2 linked regions of the Homo sapiens genome follow. The protein of the gene in region 2 interacts with the protein of the main gene of each other region in a biochemical or structural test. Each region holds a gene or a part of one and is shown on either strand. Other genes may lie near its edges.

Region 1 (3,921 bases), on a different chromosome or scaffold from region 2:
CTCTACAATAACTTGATTTGTTAGTTATCTTTACATTTTCATTTTCTAGTTTTAAAAAAATCTGTGGCAAACATAGACATTAAATATACTCATAGGGACTGTACCCATACTCTAGTAAATTAGATCACGAAAAGAAATAGGCCCCCACTCACCCGTTCTTTTGCCATGTGCGAGTCATGGTTTGACTCCACCACTATTCCTTCTTTAGAATCTGGAGGGGTGTCAAGTGGATCAGCCAGGGAGGAAACAATAGGGATTTTCTTAGCTTGGAAATAATCATAGGCCTTCTTTCCACAGACTAGAAGTGTGACATTCTTCCCACTGCTCTGGATTCTATCCACCACCTTCTCATAGGGTTCATCTAGCACATTCACCCCATTCACTTCAATGATGACATCCTCATCCTCTAGCCCAGCCAAGTCAGCAGGACCGCCCTTCTGTACCTGTGAACAGAAGTTCTGAGTTATCAATTTCAAACAGAGAAGGGGACATCAGACTAGCTCTCCTTAAGAGAATAGATGAGGAGCTCAAGAATTTATTTTTAATCATGTTATTATTTCTCCTTGAGGTATAGAAGTTGAGAAAGGTGTTCTAATGCTTTTATATTTATGAAGGCTATAACTTCCATATTCACATGATTAGTGGTATTATAAATAGTGGTTCAGCATCATATGTCTTCTGGGATGAAGGGGGATAAATAGGTCCCCCTTCTTCACTCCCAACTTGAAAGCTTTAGGGATTCTTATCAGTCCCTACAGGGTAAGGGGCATTATGCCAAATGCACAGAAGCAAACAAATATGACTGCCAATCAGGGTTGATAGTGACTGTCAACTAGAGTTCAGTCAACTCACACTGTTTGGAACAGATGTTTGGGAAACAAACAAACGTGAGCTTATGATGTACTGGTAGCTAACCTAAAGGGTGTGGGACCATGACAACATTTATCTGAACCCAAGTGAGACCCCTCAGTGTGTGCCTTCAATGGAACCTCTCTACTAAGCCATCAATGGGTGGGAAAAGCTGAGACTATCCTAATTGTGGCTGTGTTTGTTGGGCTGCTGGAACCAGATTACCATACCTCTTTGATGAATGAGCCTGGCAGACCCCGAATCGCATTTAAGTGAAAGCCATAGCCATTTTCACCTTTAGCCAGCCTGCAGAGTTTAGGCTTATGATCTACTTCCTCTGTAGTATCTGGTGGACTTGAGACTTCCAGAGAAGTGGGAGTAGGAGCTGGAGCCTCCTTGACAGAGCCATTGGGCAGTTCTTGACTTTGATAGTAGAGAAATGGAGAAAAATGAGCCTTTTGAAAAATAAAGGGAAAAAACATTAACTTAGTTGTAACCATGAGTAAGTTATACTTTGTTAAATGTGCTGATTTTTAAGGTATCATACATATTCCACTCTTCTTCTGGATGTGTCTGATTGTAGGCTGTAAAATTCCTCTACTACCCCAACCAGGAAAGGTATAAAAGAAGACTGTGCTTCGTTATGGAGTAATATGTGTATACATGTACACAAATGCACACATGAACATAAAAGCAGTATAGGATGCGGTACAAGGATCCCAAAAGAAGTCTAAAAAATTGCTAGTTTCTTTTGAGTGAGTTCATGATAGTGAGCAAGTCACTGAACAAGCTATACATAATCTCCCTGTTGGGAAATGACATATCTGACCGACTAGCCGGTACCTCATGCAGAGTACATTCTTCTGGCTTTTCCTTTCGGTAAGATGGTCTTCAGAGCTCCTTAAACACATTAGAAAAAGTAAAACACAAGACACTTGTGATAGTTAATTTTAGATGCCAACTTGACTGGATTAAGGAATACCTAGAAGCCCGGCAAAGCATTATTTTGGTGTGTGTCTGTGAAGGTGGTTCCAGAGGGGATTAGCATGCGAGTCTGAGTGAACTACAGAAAAGGCAAAGGTGTCAGTCTGTCTGCTAGAGCTGGGATACCCTCTTCCTCTCCTGTGCTTGGACATCAGAATTCCTGGTTCTCCGGCCTTTGGACTCTAAGATCTACAGCCGCAGCCCCCCAGATTCTCAGGCCAAATGCACAGAAGCAAACAAGTAGGACTGCCAATCAGGGGTGATGCCAGTAATGTGGCTCAGTCAGATTTGGACGGAGCCACACTACTGGCATCCCAGGGTCTCAAGCTTGAAGACAGCCTGTCGTGGGGCTTCTCAGCCTCCATAATCATACAAGCCAATTCCCCTAATTAATCTCCTCTCATACCTGTATCTATATCCTACTAGATCTGTCTCTCTGGAGAATGTTAATATAACACTATTTTTATCACTATCCAAAGATTCAAAGCTACTAGAAGAGACCAACCCATATACACAGGAATAATTGGTGAGAGGGTGACAGCTGTTATATGGTCACATATTGTAACAAAAGTTAATTCCAACCCTTTGCTGCTTGCCAATACCCTCCCCTTCCAGACCTGGGATCTGTGCTTATTTATTTTGCTATGTATTGTTGTAAGCATTAGCTGTCACTTCTATTATGCCAAACTCTCCAACATCTTTAAATACTCCTAATTCATATCAACTCCCAGACCATCCATGTAAAGAAATGATGATCTTGAATACCGAAGAGGCATAGAACAGGAAACAGGATTGATTTTTTTGTAATAGAATTACAAGCCTAACTGGCTGTTTTAGTTGAGACAATTAGAAGGGTGGACCTGGGTATGGTGTGATCCTGGATCAGCAGCTAAATGGCTGCCCACACGTGTCCGGAACATTTGTTAGGTGATGAGTAGGAAATCAAGCAATGGAAGGTGAGCACAGTGTGGGCTCTACTTCAAATCGCACTGTTTAGCAGCCTGACTAAAATTAGATTTTTAGTCCTCTGGTTATCATGTGTCTTACTAACCACAAGACCACATCTCCTTCCTTTCTAAGTGAGAATACCACCAGCACAGAACCTCCTAGTTACCCAGTTCAACTAACTTCAGACCTTTCAGTCATATACTTGCAACAGTTCCACAATGGAGCCTTTCTCTTTAAAATATGGAAAATTATCAGGTGACTCATTACATGCAAAAATACGTCTGATAACACTACCCAAACAAGCAAATCAACTGTATCTGACAGTCGCAGCTCATCTCGAGGCAAAGTGCAATAACATTAAAACACTTGAGATTTTGGCCGGGCTTGGTGGCTCATGCCTGAAATCCCAGCACTTTGGGAGTACAAGGTGGGCGGATCACTTGAGGTCAGGAGTTCGAGACCAGCCTGGCCAAAATGGTGAAACCTCATTCTCTACTAAAAATATAAAAATTAGCCAGGTGTGGTAGCACACACCTGTAGTCCCAGCTACTTGAGAGACTGAGGCAGGAGACTCACTTGAACCTGGGAGGCAGAGGTTCCAGTGAGCTGAGAACATACCATTGCACTCCAGCTTGGACAACAGCGGGAGACTCTGTCTCAAAAAAAAAAAATGAGATTTTATTCATGCTTCATTCAGATAATTGGGTGTCTAGTATGTGCCAGGGACTGCTAGAGGGTTGTGTTTTACTCACTGATGTATCTCAAAGATCTACCCTCCACCCCAACCTACAGGGCTTACTTTGGAGAGCGGGGAAGGAGATGATGAGGGCAGGCTTCTTTTTCGATCAAAGTTCTCTATTAACCAAAACAGAAAAATTACAATTAAATCATTCTATGATAAGATCAGGAGGGGTCAGAATCCCCTTTACAACAAACAGCTGCAGCAGCCGCCTCTGATTTCTGCTTGACTTTCCACCAACTGCAAAATGACTCATCATTTCTGGCAGCTTCAGTTGGTTCTTAAGCCAAAAGCTAGCTCCCTATGGCTTCTCTGGTCCTGTTGTGCCCCATAGGACACCTTAAAAAAAATGTGTGGCCCGGGCGTGTTGGCTTATACCTGTAATCCCAGCACTTTGGGAG
Region 2 (3,921 bases):
CCCTGCAGATGAACTTAGGCCCTCTCCAGAGCAGAGCATTTGTTGCCCTTCCTGCTCCTTTAGCCTCAGGGCAGGAGGCTGCCGGGTTTCCTCACACGCAGGGCCTCTTCTCTCTGAGGTCTTGGCCCTGAGGGCTATATATGAAGGGCCATGCCCATGGAGACTGAGATCTGACCCCTGCAGTAGGTCTCAGGGATGAGGACCCCAGCATCAGACACTCTGGGTTGCTTGGGGCACTTCCTTCCCCAACAGAAGCTTCAGTCCCAACCCAGGTCCCACCAGTCCCTGCTTGCGTTCCTGCTCAACTGCTGCCTGATGGAAAACTTAGCAACGAGCTGTGACTGGCACTCCTCCCGCAGGGGTAAACACAGACTCCTCTAGCCCTGACTGCAGAGACAGATAAAGGCCCTTACCCTGGATATCTACATTCTCTATCCTTAAAGTGAAAAATAACTTGGTTTGAGCTAGAATAACTGGAGCAACAAAATAAAGATGGATAGCATTAGTTTATAACTGATGAAATAAAATAAGTATGTATGAACCTGTACTGATATAAGTTAACAATTGCATACATTAATAAATAGATGTGGAGGGGAAGCTCTTCTTCTCAGAAGAATTCCAATTAATAAATGTTGAAGGAATCAGAAAATGCAAAATCATCACTAGGCAAACTGCAGTAATAATTGTTTCAGTCAAGACCTAGTGATGAATGCTAAAATCAGTGAATAAAAATTTGAGGAGACACAGGATTTTGTATAATCTCGAAGAACCTCCCTTAAGATATTTATTAGTGACAGAGGAAAAAATAGTACCTTTACAGCAGAGAAATTCCACAGACACCAACTTGACAAATGATCAAGGTTAACATCACCAGTAATAAGACACATCAGCATCATGTACCCACTGGTATGATGCCCAGAGAATGCATCACTTCTAAGGTATCATTACCAAAAAGTGCATAACGCAATCTAATTGTGAGAAAAATCATGCCAACCCAAACTGAGGAGCATTCATCAAAATACTCATAAAAATGTCAAGATCATGAAAGATAAGGAAAGACTAAGGAACAATCACAGATTGGAGACTGAGACATGACAACTAAATACAACATGGGATTTTGGATGGGATCCTACGATAGAAAAAGGGCAGTAGTAGAAAAACTGGTGAAATCCAAACAAAGTCTGTAGTTCAGTTATTACTATTGTAACCAATGTTAATTTCCTGGTTTGGATAAATGCATAACGCGTATTTAAATTGTTAACATCAGAGAAAGCTAGATGAAGGGTATATGTGAAATCTCTGTACTATTTTCAAACTTCTCTCTAAATCAAAAGTTATTTCAAAATAAAGTTAAAAAATAATCGCCAGGCGCGGTGGCTCACGCCTGTAATCCCAACACTTTGGGAGGCCGAGGCAGGTGGATCACCTTAGGTCAGGAGTTCGAGACCAGCCTGGCCAACATGGTGAAACCCTGTCTCTACTAAAAATACAAAAAACAAACAAACAAACAAACAAAAAACTAGCCGGGCATGGTAGCAGGCCCCTGTAATCCCAGCTACTCGGGAGGCTGAGGCAGGAGAATCGCTTGAACCAAGGAGGCAGAGGTTGCAGTGAGCCGAGATGGCACCATTGCACTCCTCCACCCTGGGCAACAAGAACGAAGAAAGAAACTCCATCTCAAAAAAATAAAATAAAATAAAATAAAATAAAATAAAATAAAACGAAAAATAATTTGACTCTTAGTAACTGCACAGGTTGAAAAACTTGGACCTCACAATCAACCCCTGAAGAAGGAAACTACCTTATACACATGTACACACACAGACGAATGCACTCACGCAAACCCCAACTCAGACACCTTATTGCTACCTCCTGGCATACTATGAAAGGCATTTCTACAGCACAGCATGCCATCCTTGGTTCCTGGCTAACCCTGTCCTCCTGTGAAGAGGTGTTGGGGGGCAGTTCAGGCAGACTTGTCTGTCCCCAAAGATATGCCCATTGGGAGATCCTGGCACGGCAGTATAAGGCAAAGACACAATCTGAGGACAGTCCCACTACCTGTGTTGTGCCAACTGGGATGCAGAGAACCTTCTCAGGGGCCCTGGGCTTGGCCCTGTACACTGGCACTGGCCAAGTCAGTATGGGTTTGGACTTGTGTTCTATTCTCTGAGGCTTGGAACTGCCACTGTGGGGAGAGGGGCTCAGCCTCCAGCAAGTCCCATCACCTATTACACAGGCCACAACCTGGACTTTAGAACAGCTCCCACCATGCCCACTGTCCCCAGCCAGTGGAGAAGGCAAAGAAGGTGCTGAGCTTCTGCCTTTACCACTCCTCACCACCACCTAGGAAGCCCATTTGCTGGTGCCACACTCTTTGCTGGTGCCACACTCTGTGCTGGCCACCACCGGATGGGGCATGGGGCATTATCTCACTGAGTCCTCCCAACAACTCAGATAAGGTGGCTTCTCTTATTATCCCCATTTTGAAAACTGAGATAAAGTACACATAATATACAGTTTACCATCTTAGCCATTTTTAAGTGTACAGTTCAGAAGCGTTCACACTGTTGTGCAATCAATCTCCAACACTACTTTCATCTTACAAAACTGAAACTCTATACCCATGAAACAACGACTCCCTACTCCTTCCTTCTTCCAGTCCCTGGCAACCACCATTTACTTTCTGCTTCTGTGAGTGTGACTACTCCTGTAGTGAAATCAGAAAATAATTTGTCTTGTGACTGGCTTATTTCACTAAGCGTAGTCTCCTCAAGGTTTATCCACGTTGTAGCATGTCCTTCCTTTTTAAAGCTGAATAATCGTCCATTGTACGCATATACCACATTATGTTTATCCATTTGTCTGTGGAAGGACACTTGGGTTGCTTTCACCTTTTGACTATTGTGAATAATGCTACCATAGACATGGTGTACAAATATCTCTTTGAAACCCTGTTTCAATTATTTTAGACATATATCCAGAATTAGTATTGCTGGATCATATGGTGATTCTATTTTTAATTTTTTTAGGGACCACCACATTATTTTCCATAGTGGCTGCACCATTTTACACTCCCACTAGGAATGAACAAGGGTTTCAATTTCTCTACATCCTCACTAACACTTGTTATTTTCTGTGTTTAAAAACAACAACAACACTTTTTTAGAGGTGGGGTCTTGCCCTGTCACCCAGGCTGGAGTGCAGAGATATGGTCATAGCTCACTGCAACCTCAAACTCTTGGGCTCAAGTGATCCTCCTGCCCCAGCCTCCTGAGAAGCTGGAACTACAGTCACATGCCCTCATGCCTGGCTAATTTTTTATTTATTTTTTGTAGAGATGGGGTCTTACTATGTTGCCCAGTGCTGTCTTGAACTCCTGCCCCCTAGCAATCCTCCTGCCTCGGCCTCCCAAAGTGGATTTCTGGGTGTTTTTTTTTTCTTTTTGTAGTAACTATTTTTAAGGGTACAAAGTGGTACCTCCTTATGATTTTCATTTGCATTTCCCTAGTGATTAGTGATGTTGAGCCTCTTTTCATCGCTTGTACCCCCAATTTATAGACAAGGAAACTGAGGCTTTCATCAGTGATGTAACCTGCCTGGAGTCAGCCAGGTGGTTGGCAGTGGAGTCAAAACTGGCCCTCTACTGAGTCTGACTCCAGAACTCTGTGTGCTGCCGCCCCTCTGGGGGAGAGCCATCCATCCATCCTGCTTACCCTGGTACTTGCTTCCTTCCCTCCTCCTCCCAACCACCAGAGCCCAGTTTTTTGTTGTTGTTGTTGTTTGTTTGTTTGTTTTGAGACACAGTCTGGCTCTGTCACCCAGGCTGGAGTGCTGTGGTGTGATCTCAGCTCACTGCAACCTCCGCCTCCCAGGTTGAAGTGATTCTCCTGCCTTAGCCTCCCGAGTAGCTGGGACTAC

The links.
Region 1: the proteins of SLC22A4 (region 2) and PDZK1 form a complex in vitro, tested with the Homo sapiens proteins (one study listed by BioGRID).

The regions. Positions count from the first base shown.
Region 1 is NC_000001.11:145,672,578-145,676,498, forward strand, and holds part of PDZK1 (Na(+)/H(+) exchange regulatory cofactor NHE-RF3), read right to left. Parts: intron 3,637-3,921; coding exon of another isoform or gene 3,581-3,636; intron 1,750-3,580; coding exon of another isoform or gene 1,693-1,749; intron 1,305-1,692; coding exon 1,080-1,304; intron 444-1,079; coding exon 153-443; intron 1-152. UniProt on the Homo sapiens protein: A scaffold protein that connects plasma membrane proteins and regulatory components, regulating their surface expression in epithelial cells apical domains.
Region 2 is NC_000005.10:132,297,195-132,301,115, reverse strand, and holds part of SLC22A4 (solute carrier family 22 member 4), read right to left. Parts: intron 1-3,921.